Linked DNA regions of Homo sapiens: region 2 is linked to region 1. Evidence: fine-mapped expression QTL. Tissue or cell type: testis. Region 1 holds a variant in brackets; the other region holds the start of a gene. All regions are shown on one strand. Distances are between the middles of the regions.

Region 1 (8,108 bases):
ACCCCAAATCAACAGAATATACATTCTTCTCAGCACCACATCGCACTTATTCCATAATTGACCTCATAGGTGGAAGTAAAGCACTCCTCAGCAAATGTAAAAGAATAGAAATTACAACAAACTGTCTCTCAGACCACAGTGCGATCAAACTAGAACTCAGGATTAAGAAACTCACTCAAAACCGCTCAACTACATGGCAACTGAACAACCCGCTCCTGAATGACTACTGGGTACATAACGAAATGAAGGCAGAAATAAAGATGTTCTTTGAAACCAACGAGAACAAAGACACAACATACCAGAATCTCTGGGACACATTCAAAGCAGTGTGTAGAGGGAAATTTATAGCACTAAATGCCCACAAGAGAAAGCAGGAAAGATCTAAAATTGACACCCTAACATCACAATTAAAAGAACTAGAGAAGCAAGAGCAAACACATTCAAAAGCTAGCAGAAGGCAAGAAATAACTAAGATCAGAGCAGAACTGAAGGAGATAGAGACACAAAAAACCATTCAAAAAATCAGTGAATCCAGGAGCTGGTTTTTTGAAAAGATCAACAAAATTGATAGACTGCTAGCAAGACTAATAAAGAAGAAAAGAGAGAAGAATCAAATAGATGCAATAAAAAATGATCAAGGGGATATCACCACCCTTGAGAGTGGGTAACAGGGTTAGACCAGATGGTAGGAAAGGACACTTTCTGAGTTCTTCTTAATTTCCAGCTCAGTCACTCCCCCTTCTTTTTAGGAGTGGTACTGGAAGAGCCAGACACCCTACACCTCCTCAACTACACCCCAAGGAAGGTCACTGTAACTGGCTATACATTTTGAATTGCTACATATACATGTGAATGTTTAGAGATACATAATTTAAAGCTACAGGTATCCACAGGTTCCATACTCTCAAATGTGGATCAAAAATATTCAGGAAAAAAAACACACAAAAAAATACAATGAAAATGACACAGATTTTAAAAACAATACAGTATAACAACTATTTACATACCATTTACATTATATTAGGTATTATGAGTAATCTAAAGTTGATTTAAAGTATACGGAAAGATATGCTTAGGTTATACACAAATTCTATACCATTGTATATCCAGGACTTGAGTATCCACAGATTTTGGTATTTTAGGGAGGTCCTGAAGCCAGTTCCCTGAATTACCAAGGTACCAATGAATAACTCTCTCTCTTTCTCTCTCTCTCTCTGTGTGTGTGTGTGTGTGTGTGTGTGTGTATTTGTGTGTGTGTATGTGTGGTACCTCCCGTGATATCTCACGTCCCATGATAGCTCAGGAAACTCTCCCTAGTGTCACTTTTAGGGTGAGATTAGAGGCTGAATAAAAAGCGGATCTGATTGCAACGGAAGAGTTGACCTTTGCTAGAGAATTTGACCCATTAAATATGGCTATTGTTTATCTCAGACTGACCCTTTCCAAAATTAAGTTTTCCTCCCAAATACTGAACATGTTGGGGTGTGGGTTTATTTTCCCTTCTTCACTAAGTTGTCTGAATTCTTTAGATCTCAGCTTAGGTAGACAGTCTCAACAAGAAGCTGACTTTAGAAAGTTTAAGGCCCCAAATATTTTGTCAACACAAATCCTTAAGCTACTTTATGGCATTAGAGCTAAAAGGAGAGCATCTGGTTTTAGTATCACAAATTAAACTACCTGCAGGGCCAGGCAGATAACATAAATGAGTTCTGTTCAGTCCATTCAGAAACTACTACTAATACGTCTACTAAGCACTGTTCCAATTCATCTTAACTTTATATTTTATTTTGTTGTATTTTGAGACAGAGTCTCCCTCTGTCACGCAAGGTGGAGTGTAGTGGTACAATCTTGGCTCACTGCAACCTCCGCCTCCAGGGTTCAAGCAGTTCTCCTGCCTCAGCCTCCCAAGTAGCTGAGACTACAGGCGCCCACCACCACGACTGGCTGATTTTTGTATTTTTAGTAGAGATGGAGTTTCACCATGTTGGCCAGGCTGGTCTTAAACTCCTGACCTCAGGTGATCCGCCTGCCTCAGCCTCCCAAAGTGCTGGGATTACAGGCATGAGCCACCATGCCTGGCCTCATCTTAACTGTATAATAACCATGAAGATAGGTACAGTTATTATTGCTAGTTTTACGGATGAAGAGCTGTGGCATAGAGTTTAGTCACTTGCCTTTCACACAGCTGGTATGTTGAAGACCTGGGATCCGAATACAGCAGTATGGATCCTGAGTTCTACATTTAGCCACTTGGTGCTTCTGCCTACCAGCCATAAATAAATAGAATAAGTGATAACAAAGTACTGCAGAGAAAAAGAGGCTAGAGTGAGGGGAATAGAGAAAGCCATGGAGTGGACAGGAGAGATGTATTATTTTATAGAAAGGCCAAGGAAAGCCACTTTTAAGTGGTGAGATTTCAGTTGGGCCTTGGCACCTCTCTGGGAATGTCCCAAGTACTGCAAAAAAGGAAGTGCAAAGGTCCAGAGGTAGGCATGTGACAATGTAGCAACATTGGAAGTGTTGGGACTATCACCAACTGCAGAGTTTGTGATTGTTCAGAATGAGACTTCTCAACTCCAACCAGTTGTTGGCAGACAGGAATATAGATCACTGGCTTAGTCTATTTTATTCTGGATCGCACTTTTGTAGAGTCTTACTCAGGAACAGAATACCTGAGACTGGGCAATTAATATGAACAGAAGTTTATTGACACCCAGTGCTGGGAGGGAGAGGGATAGAGAGCTGACTCGCCCTTTTACAACAGTGCTAATTCCATCTGTGAGGGTGAGCCTAATCACCTCATGGCCTAATTATCTCTTCAAGGTTCACCTGTTAATACAGTTAAAATGGCGAATTTCAACATGAGTTTTGGAGAGGACAAGCATCCAAAGCATAGCAACCAGTGTGGCCATATCTTCCAGTTTTTCAGTAGAACCCACAAATTTTTAATGTCTAATTTCTCGGTTTTTAAATGTTCATGTCTAACTCAAAAAAAATAACACTATGACAGCCAAACAAATAATATATGCAGGCTGGTTATGACCCATGGGCCACTAGTTTTTTGCTGTCTAACTCCCTTGGTTTGTGTTCCCAAAGACAGATGCCAGAGAGGGAAAGCAATTTGCCCAGAGCCCTACAGGTGGTAGCCAAGGTAGTCTTCGTTAAAAATCCAGGTTCTGAGGCCGGGCACGGTGGCTCACACCTGTAATCCCAGCACTTTGGGAGGCCGAGGTGGGTGGATCACCTGAGGTCAGGAGTTTGAGACCAGCCTGACCAACATGGTGAAACCCCGTCTCTGCTAAAAATATAAAATCAGCAGGGCATGGTGGCGCATGCCTGTAATGTTAGCTACTTGGGAGGCTGAGGCAGAAGAATTGCTTGAACCCGGGAGGCGGAGGTTGTAGTGAGCTGAGGTCACACCATCGCACTCTAGCCTGGGCAATAAGAGTGAAACTCCGTCTCAAAAAAAAAAAAAAAAAAAATCCAGGCTCTGGAGCCAGACTGCCTAGGTTTGAATGCAGGATCCGCCACTTACCAGTCATGAGACCGGGCAATTGCTTCACATCTCCACATCTCAAGTTCTCATCTTTGAAATCAGAATAATAACATTGCCTTCCTTAAGAGGTTATCCACATAAGCATTTAGAACAAGCTTGTACAGCCCACAGCCCACAGGCTACATGTGGCCCAAGATGGCTTTGAATGTGGCCCAACACAAATTCATAAACTTTCTTAAAACATCGTAAGATGTTTTTTGCAATTTTTTAAAAGTTCATCAGCTATCATTAGTGTTAGTGTATTTTATGTGTGGCCCAAGACAATTTTTCTTCTTCCAGTGTGGTCCAGGGAAGCCAAAAGATTGGACACCCCTGATTTAGAACACACAGTGTTCAGACATTAAATAGTGGAAGTAGTCTATAATATTTGCTATTATCATTATTCCCACAAATCCATTCTTTCCCCTTGTCTTCCACCCTAGATTATATCAAATGCAAGCACAGCCTTCAATCAGCTCAAGCAAGTGTTTGGTGTAAATAAAGGCTTTACAGGACTTTATTTGGGTTCTGCTGCAGTCCATAATACTGCAAGACTGATAAGCAGTGCTGATAAAAGTGCTGCTTTTTCCTGGAAGTGTTTCTTTTGGATTTATATTTGAAACAAGTTGAATCCTCTGAGCTCTTGCAAGGACCAGAGGTAAATCAAAGCAGCAATTTATTCCTCAAAGCCAGATGTGACCTTGCATCCCATCAGCCCATTCTCCTGGAGGGCCGTGATGAGAAGCTTTGACACTC[C/T]TGAATGTGCCTGAGGATTTATCTGTGCCTAATCATCAGCAAGGGGATGCTGGGTCTGATACAACTGATGCTGCGGAGAAGAAGGGGACACTTATGAATCTTTCTACCTTAAGGAAATTGTGTTTTCCACCTTGTGTTAGAGAGATATAAATTAAGGTGATGAAATGCCAGGGAACAGATGGGTTCTAAACCATTCTAAAGGAATTTTATGAATTTCACTTGTGTCTGGTTTTGTCTTGAGACACAAGAGTGACCTTATGTCTGTAGCCTCAGCAGATCAGAATTTATAAGGGATCTTAGGGAAGGATGAGCTAATCTCGTGCTTCTCAACGCATGATCCCTGGACCATCAGCACTGGCATTAGCTGGGAACTTGTCAGAAATGCAGATTTTCAGGTCCCATCCCAGAACTAATCACAAACTCCAGGAATGGGGCCCAGCAATTTGTGTTCTAACAAGTTCTCCAGGTGATTCTGTTCACGCTTGAATTTGAGAACTACGCGTCTAATTCATCTAATCATGATGCCTATCCCATATTAACATCTCCTGATGATCTTTTAGAAAACAACTACAGCATGGATCCCACCTCTGTGCAGTCTTAGGCAGGCTAGAGTGGAACTGGAGCGGGGTTACTGACCTCCTCACAGTCAACACTTTGAGCTAGAGAGTTCTTTGTTGCGGGGCTGCTCTGTGCATTGTAGACTGTTCAGCAGCATCCCTGGTCTCTCTATCCACTACAACAGGAGGACATGTTTTGACAAACATGTCTGCAGACATTGCCAGATACCTCCCTGTGAGGCAAAATTGCTCCCCTGCCCCTCCCACCCTGTTGAAAACCACTGAGCTACAGCATAAGTATTTTACAAGCACCCCAATGGTTCTAACATGCAGCCAGGACCAAAAACCACTGACCTCATCCAACCCTATCTTTTTGTCAGGGGAAACTACAGAGGATGAGCTTTAGTGGTTCTATAGGTAAAGGCACACTTTCCCAGACCTGTATATTTTGTTCCTGATTGGAGTAAATCCAATCACAGCAGGCAATCCCAGGTAAGTGAATGTGTTTTTAGGAGGCTAGTTGGCCACCTCATCAAATGAATCCACCTCCAAACTCAGAACCCATGGGGGGCCCAAGATGAAAACAGGACTGTTGCAAGCTGCAGATATGTCCAGGGTGACAATGGTTGCCTCTTGGCTACCTAGCCCCATAAAGTGGGGTTCCAGAGGAAAGGAATGGGAGGTTACTACTCTTGCCTTTCCGATATCTTCTCCCTGTGCTGAAATGTCCTGTCTCTAAGAGTCGTGATCATAACTTATTGTGCCTGGCTTGTGCTCTAACCTTTGCCATGTATGTTCTCTGATTATCTTTAAGCCTTCAGAGATACTATTTCTTACATGCTTCCTCTAAGCTAGGCCATCACCAGATTCAAACCTTGTGCAATCTTTTGTATTTTTATATTTTTGAGACAGTCTTGCTCTGTCACCCAGGCTGGAGTGCAGTGGCTTGATCTCGGCTCACTGCAACGTCTGCCTCCCGGGTGCAAGCAATTCTCCTGCCTCAGCCTCTGGAGTAGCTGGGATTACAGGTGTGTGCCATCATGTCTGGCTAATTTTTGTATTTTTTGTAGAGACAGGGTTTCGCCATGTTGGTCAGGCTGGTCTCAAACTCCTGGCCTCAAGTGAGTCACCCACCTTGGCCTCCCAAAGTGCTGACACTATAGGCATGGGCCACTGCACCCAGCCTCCTTGTGCAATCTTGAAAACACACTCCAGAAGACTGGGTATTATTGTCCCCCTTTTACAGATGACTGAAGTGAGGCTCTGAAAGGTGAAGTGGCCTGTGATCCCACAGTGGCCAAGTTTATTCTGATGCCAAAGCACCGATGTGTAACTGAGCACTGTACATCCTTAAGGAGCTACTCATATTTTCCACTTTCCCAAGAGTGTCAACTGAGCCTCCGAGAGGCTAGGCAGTAGGTAGAATCACGTTGCTGATGCCCCTGATATAATATCCTTTCAGCTCTTTCCTTGGAATAAAATGGTAGCTGCAGTCATGGCCCTCACTGCAAATGAGCCTTCCAAATGCAAGTGGGCAGCCAGACAACCTCTACATCCCTGCATTTTGCTCGTGCCCAGAGGTGAAAACAAATGAATGCTCCATATTTGGGACCTTTGTGAAGACGGCAGGTGACACCTGTTCTTTCTGTATTGGCAGGTCTTGTACAGATGGAACAGACAAAGCAGCACATCTGTCATTGAAACAAATAAAACATCGGTGGAGCTTTCTTTGCCTTTCGATGAAGATTATATAATAGAAATTAAGCCATTCAGCGACGGAGGAGATGGCAGCAGCAGTGAACAAATTCGAATTCCAAAGATATCAAGTGAGAATGCCTTTTTTTCTCCCTTTTCTCCTGCCTGTCTTATCTTATCAGCCTTCCAGATGAGTCAGGGCTTGAAAGACATTCAGCCTGCAAAAGCAGACTTAAAATAGAAATGGAGAACACTACCCCCCTTCTCCAGATGTTTGCTGGCCATAGGCAGTTTCATGCAAAAATCAGTTTGCCCGTGTTGACTGATCTACTCAGTTGCTAATCAAAAATCAGATTAAAGCAGACCCGAATTAGTCACTAAGGTTTTTCCGTGTCAACCTGTGTAGTTTGCATTGCATCTATTGTAGCCCCAGAATTACAGTTTAGAAAGTGAAAAGCATTGACTCAGTCAGAAGGAACAAGGACAAGCATTGTTAAGTATGCCGTAGCAGTTTTTCTCCAGTGAAACAGTGTATGCAGTTCAGTATCTTGGAAATATTTGGAATTTACTACTTATTTTCAATGGGTATATGCAACATGTGCATCAATGTGTATGTCTCTCTATAGTCAAGATTATCTTCACTTTCAAATGTTGTTGAATAGCATGGGAGAATAGCATATTCTTTTTGAGCAAATACATTCAATTCTGTTTTTACAAATACCATGTTTGTAAGTATCTTAAGAGCATGATTTTTTTGTTGTTGTGTGTGATCTCATTTATTTAAAGAAAAAAAACAAAATAGCCAAATCCGTGGAGACAGAAGTGAGGCTAGTGATTGGCAGTGGCTGGTCAGTGGGGAATGGGGGTTTAGGCACTGGGTCTTCATTTGGGGTGACACAAAAGTTATGGAGCTTGAGAGTGGTGCTGGTTGCACAACACTGGAGTATACTTAGTACCACTGATTTGTACATTTTAAATGAGTTAAAATGCTAATTTTGTTATGTGTATTTTACAGCAATAAAAAAAAGACTGTGGTTAGATATCTAAGTGTAGACTTTCACAGGCTTTCAGATTTCAGTCTGGAGATTAGGGGAGCAGTGAAGGCTGGAGGTATAAATTTTCAAGACATTGGTAAAAAGATGATATTTTAAATTATGGACAAAATCCTCACCACCATCCTGACTTTTAGCCATGTGACATCCCTCTGCTAAGGGGTGATATGCCAGTGTTTCTGGATGGAGTTTATATTTACTGCATCTTTTTTGCATACAAACACAAAAGGCATTTTTGTCTTAAAAGGGGGACAATTGGATTATACTTTATCAAACAAAGCCTCTAACTTCTATCGAAAGGGAGCTAGATTTTTGGTGAGATGTGGAAGTAAAATCTCCAGGCCACAAAAATACAAGATTGGGGCTTATCTCGCTTCATTAAAAATCTGACTTTATACTTCATACTTTCTTATCATTGCAGGGATTGACATTTTTAGATAGACTGATGATTCCTGGTTTTATTCATTACAAAAACATATATTAAGCAATTATATTGGTGTAATTATTAGATAA
Region 2 (8,108 bases), 950 kb before region 1:
TTCCTAAGCAAAAGAAAGCTGTGATGTGCCTCACAGAGAAAATACATGTGTTAGATAAGTTTTGTTCAGGCAAGAATTACAGTGCTGCAGGCCATGAGTTCTATGTTAATGAATCAACAGTATATATTAAAGAAGGTATCTTTATCAGTTGATGAAAATCTTGTTACCAGAGGCTGTCAGGAACATAACCCTTTATTGTCTCCAGTGTTTGCAGTGACTTTATAGAACATAATTACTGAGGACATCAGAAATCAACTATAAATACTTTTGCAACTAATAGACCTTTGGAACAATTATTTTTGGATTTTGTATAAAGAATCCAAAAAAATCTGGAAAACGTGTGGCTAAGAAAACAGTTGATTGGTCCCTAATTCCACCTTATTATGTTTAAATTCAGTGGGTGTCTCACAGCCACGTTTATAAAGGAATCTTGGCTGGGGTGTCAGGTTTCTAGTTTACTTTGACTCTATCTGTCAGTCTGTGTCCAACCTTCATGGCAATTAACTGTGCTTTTGTGTGCTAATTATCATTATCCCAGTATGGGCCCATTATTAGTCCAATGTCCTTAGTTTAAAGCTTAAGTGTCAATCAGTCACCTAAAACAATTGCATAGAAGGAAGCTTTGCAAGGCTGGTTTGAAAGTCCTTAGCTGAGTTCTACTTTATTATACTCCAGTTCGAAACTGAACACAAAGCTCTTCTTGATACAATTGTTTATTTAAATACTGATTTATCTACTTAATTAAAGCAAACTTGAGTTTATATTTTAAAATCAGGGATGGGATAATTGCTACTTTATGCTTGAAGATCTATTCAGGTAGCTATACATTAAACAAGTAAAACCGTAATTATAAAACCTGCACATTTTTATCTGATTGAGTCGCTCCTGCCATTGAACGACCTTATTCAAGTCATTTAGAACAAAGAAAGGTGGCATATATGAGTTTTTTAAAATCCCACTGGATGCCAGGAGTAAGGAGAAAATAGCATCAAATCAGATGTGGTCAGAAAAGAGGTATTTCTTTTCCTGTGATGCTTTTCCTCTTTCCTCCTCTTACAGTAAATCCCCACTTATCAAATCTTCAGATGTGTAGAGAAGGAATAAGGCAGGGGTAATGGGGGAGTGGGACAGAGAGATGCCCTTTCTGGAGTTTGCACAACGGTTGCATGCTGAGTAAAACCTGATGATGTATTCCATTCATGTCTCCAAAAAGTCAAAAGCGGTTTCAGCGTTGATTTCCCTTAAGAGTTATCAGTCCTCATTCAATTGGTTTAATGAGTGTAAGAGGTGACCTTGTGTCTATGTAGATACTCCCATATTAAAAGACCTGGATGTAAAACTTCACATATGTGTAAATAGTTATTTTGGAGGGTGTTGTGAGGGTTATTGCAGCTCTCTGCTCAGCTGCTACTCAGGCTAAACGGGCAGGAGAAATTTTCCACTGTGTTAGAATGATGATTATTTGCAAATTACATGAGCACCAGTAATTCATTCATGCAATGATACAGAGCTGGGTCTCAGTGCAGTGGTATTGAACTTGCTGCTGGGGGCGTTAATTGATTCGTTTGGAACATTCCCCTCCAGAGAATCCCAATCACAGGTCCCCTGATCAAGAAACGGACACGCAGTCGGGGTCCTGGATATGTAGAGACACACGTGTGAGGCTGTTGTCATCAAAATAAACCATTTCTGTCCCCTGACAGGGGTTGAGTCTATTAGGAACACTCCCCAATCCTGGGAGCTTCCGCAAGAGGCTTTCTATCTTGGCAGAGGTGGCAGCTGAGCATCGCTTCTTTGCTGCAGGATGGAAAAAAGGGACTGGATTATTGGCTGCATTTTAAACTAGCTGCTGTTCTAGAGAAAATGTTGGGGAGGGACTGAACAAGCTTAGCACTGGATCAGTGTGGGGGTGTGTTGGTGAAAAGAAAAAATGCCTCCTCCTAACTTAACGTTTAACTGATATCCCCTCAACACGACCCAAATCTGTCTCTCCAGATACACAATGTCTGTTTTCCTAACTACATGGTGAACTGTGGAGCAAGTCTTGGTCATGTTTAGTTTGTTTCCCAGAATCTACTAGAAGACAATGCCTAGCATATAGCAGGCACAGAATAAGGGCCAAAGGGGAGAATGGAAACAAAATATGTACATTTGAAATTTAGAAACACAGTTAAGGGACTTTGCCTGAAATTGTCATAAAACTTTGAAAATTGCTTCAATGTATAGTCCCAGTGGGAGAATGTGACAGCATATTTTATTCTTTGTTCTTTTCTGAAATTCTGTGTCCAGTCTAAAACACGACATTTCCCTTTAATGTGTTAGGAGTATGCATGACTACACAGGAATATTTTCTGGAGAACTTCTGGTGAAGCATATTTTGATAAACAGTCTTACTAAAAGTTATATATATGTACTTTTAATTGACTAGTTGCAGAGAAATAATCAATGTAAAAAAAAATCATACATAGTACAGGTAGTAAAAGTCACAGTTCCGGCAGAAGCACAAAAGCCTTCAAAGTGAGTGGGAACCTGGGAACCATTGATCCTCAGTGGCTGTTTACCATGGAAAACACCTGCATCACCAACATTCCAGTTTTGCAAAAGTACCTCTATTACAGACACATACCAGGCAAGGAGGGAGGAAAAAGCCTGAAAATTTCTCTCCAAGTTTAAGTAATCAGGAAACTTTGGTGGGGAGGTTGGGGTGGGGTGGGGGCGGGGGGGTAACTTCTTTATTTAGCATTAATCTCAGCAATCATGAAAGTCATGGAATTTCAAGTGATGAAAAATTTGACCACAACAATACCTATCACTAGCCTGGTTTTGCCCACTTCTCGAACAGGAATTATAAAGATAATAATTAATTCTAAAAAGCAGAAGACAAAACAAACAAACCAAACCAACACTGAATGAACTAATAAGGCTGCTGCATATATATGTTGGAGTTGGATGTTTATTTGCTTACTGCAGTAGTTTAAAAATAGTTTTCCAGTTAACATCTTTTCCACATAGTGGAGATGTCAGGGTAGGTTTACATGATTGCGTAAATGGTCAGAAGTTGTTTATGTAGCTCTGAACTGCTGAGAGATGAGCAGGAAGACCTGGGTTCAGCAAAACCCTTGGGGCTTTTTCCCAGAGAGAGAAACAGAGGCTCCTCTCTGGGTTGCTGGAATGCTTTCCAGACGAATTCGACTGGGTTGGCTTTTCTCTGCCTGTCAAAGTCACTTTGCACAGTGCTGGTGAGGGGCTGGGGCATTGCTGCCAATCTCTACGGTTACCCCGAGGTGTGGAGTTGCGGCGAAGGGAGCCACTTCTGCAAGGAAACAGTAGATTCATAATGTAGAATGACCGTGGCAACGTCGTTCAAAGCACATTCTTTCGAATAACAAGGCTTTCGACATGCCCCACCCCCGCGCACAACACACCACAAATTGATCCTTGTACCTAATTTACAGCAACTGTTCCCTCTGACCTCCCCCCGCCCCCGCCCCACATTCCAACCTGAAAGCACTTTGCGTGGATGAGACTTCAGGTGTGTAACGCAGCCTGTCCAGCCAGTGTCCTCCGCCTAAGGACAGGCAGGTAAAAACCTACCAAAGCCCCCTCTTCTGGCCTAAGTTCAATGCCACCCGCCCACCCACATTCCCCGGTTCAGCAATTTTCAGCCCAGACGCAGAAGCATCTGTTTCCCTGGCCAGGGCGCCTTAACGATCCCCCGAATTCCGCGTCTCCCGGAGGCCAGAGGTTTGGGTACCCAGGAAGGTCGCGCCTCCTCGTGCCCCGATACTCGGGTTGTAAAGGGAGGAGACATCGCCTCGGCGCATCCCTGGCCGCTGAACAACGCAACCCCTACGTCCCCGCACGGGAATCCGGCTGATAATCTCCTCTTGCCTGAGAATCGGGCCAGGCGCCCTTTACTAATTTCGCGCGCTGGGGACCTGGGGCTGCCGCCTCTCGGCCGCGCGGGGCAGGTGCTGCGTCCCCAGCGCTCGCCTCCTCCGGCCGCGCACTGAGCATGCGCGGGCTCCGGGCCTCCGGCGCGTCTCCCCGTCCCCGCTCGTCTCCCGCCCGTTCCCACCCGCCCGCGCCTCTCCCCTTCCCCGAGCGTCTCCCCCGCCCCGCGGCTAAGGAGCCGGCAGCCCGAACTCCGGCGCGCCAGGTTTTTCCAGCCGCCGCGAGCGCCGGGAGGGAGGGCAGCGCCGCGCCAGACGGAGCCCGGGGTTCGACGCCAGGATTGGCTGCAAGTAGGGAGCTTTCGCCGCCGCCCCGGGCCCCTCGGACTGTGCCGGCGCCGCACCCGAGGCTCTCGCCAGCCCGGCGCCCCGGTGCTGAGGTAAGTGAGGCGGCAGCTGTGCGGGTCCGGCTCCTGCGTGGGCGCGCGATGCCCCGGGGACGCGGTCGCGGGTGTGGGGGGGAAAGGGCAGGGTCCGCGCGGGTTGCCCGAAGGACAGGGGCGCTTCCCGGGGCTCTGACTCCCGCGGGGCCGGGCAGCGTCTGCGGGGCCGTCCAGCTCAGAGCCCGGAAGCCCTGCAGGGTCGGGGAGCGGGAGCTGAACGCCTGAGCGCGGAGGACTCAGGGCCCCGACGACGCCACCGTCACCCCACAGCGACCCTTCTTCTCCTTCTCAGCCGGAAAATAAGTTTGTTGCGCTGCGAGGCAGCCACAAAACAAGGAACCGAGAGCCCGGAATGCTGCGGGAAGCCTTCAAGTCAGCTCCTCCGACTGGTTCGGGCTACTGCCCCCTCTCCGTGCGCCCTGGCCTCTGGCGCCGGGTTCCCGGCGGGGCTTTTCTTCTGACAGCCCAGTCACAGCCCGCAGCAGAGGGACGCGAACCTGGGGAGTGGAGGGACCTGGGACTAAAGGAACAGGAGCCCGTAGCCGTGGTGGAAGGAGCCGCGTGGAGACGGAGGCTGATGTCTGTGGCGCCCGCTGGGTGCCGGGCTGGCTGCTGAGCGCTGAGGCTGCGGCGGCGAGCGACAGGCCAGGTGCCTGCTCTTAGGGAAGGTACCTGGCTTCCCCAGTCTCTGCCGCGGGAGCCTGTTGGGTGGCATTCGTTTCCAGCAACTTCTGGGGGGTTTCCAGTTTCTTTCGAGAGGCAAGACAACCGCCCCGTCCCCTCCCCGGGCCCAGACGGCGGCGAACTGTGCGCCGGGCGCCCCACAGACCCCAATCCACTCACTCTCCTTCTGGAACGCGGGGCTCAAAATCTTCGTGCATTTTCTCTCTTGTGCTTCGTGTATATGTTTTACTATTTATGAAGGGTGTGGAGGTGAGGGTAGGAGGACGTGGGCTCCTGAATCCCTCTGAACCAGCCAGAGAGTCGGCTGCATGGAAACATTTCGCAGCGAAGCTCCTGCGAGGAGGCGGCTTCGCGCGTCGGGAAGATCAGGCGGTTGCTTGCTGGCCAGGGTCTGCAGATTCGGTGCGAAGAAGCTGGCGGAGGTTGTGTAGGGCGAGTCAGTGTGACTGAGCACCCTGGGTGTGTGGTCTGCGTGGAGGAGAGTGGGCCGGATCTTGAGGTGTGTTGGAGGTTTATTTGTAAGAGGAGTTCCTGAAAGGAATGTCGTGGAACTTTTTCTAGTTTTCCTGCTGGAATCAACATAGGGGCGGGCACATGTTTGTCAGAATAACAGTGGCATTTAACTGCATGGGAAGCTCTTTCAATTTTCTGTAGTGGGAGCTGGATAGTTCAAGGAGTAACTCCACATAACTGAGTCGTTTGGATACCCACACAAGATAATTTGGAACGCGCTTGTATTTTTTTGTTTTTTGAGATTTCTGGTTTATGTCCTTTAGAGAGTGGGGTAGGAGCGTAAAGACTGTATAGGTTGCCTATGAGCAGGTCCATACAATAGCGTTCCCAAGTCTGCCTAATAGCAAGTTTGTTCTCTCTTTCTCTCTCTCTACCCAAGTGGGTGAAAAAGAACAGTGTGTCATGAAGACAGGCACCTGGAGGTGATTTGGGTGGCATTCATGAGAAAATTCACGTTACCCGTAAGTTTATTCTTGCTATTTTTATCTTGATTTCTTTAAAGATTTTGTGGGAATATCTGCAGTGGGTCGCAGGAGTAGGTAAGATTGCTAAGGATCAAAAACAAGTTTCATGAGAATATTATTTTTGCTACCTTATAAAATAGCTATTGATTTGTTTGTTGAAGCTGGTTTCAACTGCTCTGTCTTGTTGAGGAGAGATGATGCTGATAAACGTCATTATTTTTCCATCTGAACCCTGGGAGGTAGCTGGCAAGGATGGAAAAACTGACCTTTTCAATTAAAGACTAAGAGTCTAAGAGAAGTGACTTGGATAAGGGTGCATGTCAGAGCCACATGTAAGTTTCAACAGAGGTAGATTTTCCTATTTGCAGTTTTTTAAACAACACTTTTCAGTTTCTTTGAGTTGTAAAACTTTTCAAGTCAATTGGGAGTCAATGCAGTACCTTTTTCCATGGTCATTTCATATTGGCAGGTAATTAAGAGTGATTAGAGAACAAACCTTTCAAATGATGTTGGATTTTTTATCATTCACTTATTTTACCTACTTCTCTCTCCTTTTTGTTCAAAAGTAGGTCTTCTGATTTCTTTTCCGATCTAAGCACTAAATCTTTTGGCTGCAGTTTTTCTTCTGAAATGTATACAGGGCATCCGTTCCTTCAATTTAGGTCTTAAAAAAATAAAGCTGCTCAGCAGAAAATTCCCATGCATGGTACTGACTTTTCTACAAGTTTGTCTGATCATGATTTTAACTTGTTGTTTCTTCTTTGTTATATTTGAGGACAGACATAATATGCATTAGCTTCAATCTCTCTTATCTTAAAAATTAATATTTTGTAAAAACTTGCTTTTATATTATTTTAGTTGAATAAGTCTATTTCATATGATAGGCAGGGGGAAGTCTCTACACACTGATTTTTTTTGTTCCTTTTTGTTCATTTTTCCCTGTAATGCTATGTTTTAAGCCTAGTGAAGGAGGCAAGGAGGCAGGATTTACTGCCTAGATTTATTGATCTTCATTATTATTATTATTTACTATCAGAAGAAATCTGACAACATATCAATAAAATTTATTTATAAACTGAAGACATGCTGTTATATGATACACTACTTATAAAACACACAAAGAAACAAAAAAGATGAATAAAGCAAAAATTATGAAATAGAAGGTCTCATGTTGCTGTTATGTATCCCGGTGGATCATTTTGTACAGCCCCTGGGGTGTGTAGCACACTTTAAAGATCACTGCTGGTTTGATATTTTTAAAATCTTTCTCTCCTTATCTCTGCTCTGCTGTTCATCATCTCTGATACTCTAGCCAGTTGTAAAACTGCTACACTTCTATATCTTCTGTAACAAATAGATTAAGCACACTTGTTTTCCTCTCATGGACTCATATGTGGATAGAATGAGGTGTAAAGGATGAATGTGTTTTGGAGATGTCATCTTAGATCTCCCAAAGTAGACATACAGGTGAATTTTAAAAAATGGAGTTTTAGTTTAAAGACTAAGTACCAATGGTCAGGAAGTGAAGAATCCAAGGAGTAAATGAGGGAGGATTGGAAGGACACTTTCCACATTGCAGTGTTGTGTGGAGGCTGGAAAGTTCATAAACCTTGAAGCAGATTAACCTGAATCTAAGTCTGGCACCATCATTTATTACATTTACAGTCCTGGGCAATGTAGTTCCTTAATTTCTGTGAGCCTTAGTTTCTTTAGGTATAAAATTGGGATAACATCTATTTCACGGCATCACGATAGGGATTAAACATGAGAGCATGAGTCAACATGGGTCAAGAGCTTGGCTCTTTTAGATTGGCTCTTTAGCAGATATAACAGATCCAAAAGGGATACTGCCTCAGATGTGAAATATATTTATTTCTCGGTTGTGTGAAGTCCCAGAATGGGTGATCATGGCAGTACTCCTTCAAAGTGTGATTCAGAGACCCAGCCTTCATCTGTTCTGTGCCCTTGCCGTCTTCAGCAGGGTCACTGTGCTTACTTGCATCAAGCCATTGGAAAGAGGAAGACTTGGGAGGATGTTAATTGCCCAGAACTGGAATGAGTGCATATTACTTTTCCTTGCATTGTGCTGGCCAGAACCCAGTTCTTTGTGG

The links. PIP is the estimated chance that this variant, and not a neighbour inherited with it, causes the effect.
Region 2: CNTN4 starts here. The variant in region 1 is fine-mapped to the expression of CNTN4 in testis (GTEx, PIP above 0.99).

What each region holds. Positions count from the first base shown.
Region 1 is chr3:3,047,302-3,055,409 of GRCh38, forward strand. CNTN4 (contactin 4) reads left to right here. Exons shown (of 25, transcript NM_175607.3): 24 at 6,506-6,674. The region is part of intron 1 of CNTN4-AS1 (CNTN4 antisense RNA 1); the gene reads right to left. Among named protein-coding and RNA genes, the nearest start is that of CNTN4-AS1, 9.8 kb to the right of the region's middle. The variant C/T (reference allele first, on the strand shown) is at 4,292.
Region 2 is chr3:2,094,646-2,102,753 of GRCh38, forward strand. CNTN4 (contactin 4) reads left to right here and starts at 4,221. Exons shown (of 25, transcript NM_175607.3): 1 at 4,221-4,333; 2 at 5,913-5,994. It overlaps LOC124909338 (a long non-coding RNA gene), which reads right to left and starts at 3,610. Exons shown (of 2, transcript XR_007095785.1): 1 at 3,502-3,610; 2 at 2,936-3,313. RefSeq lists an enhancer at 177-784.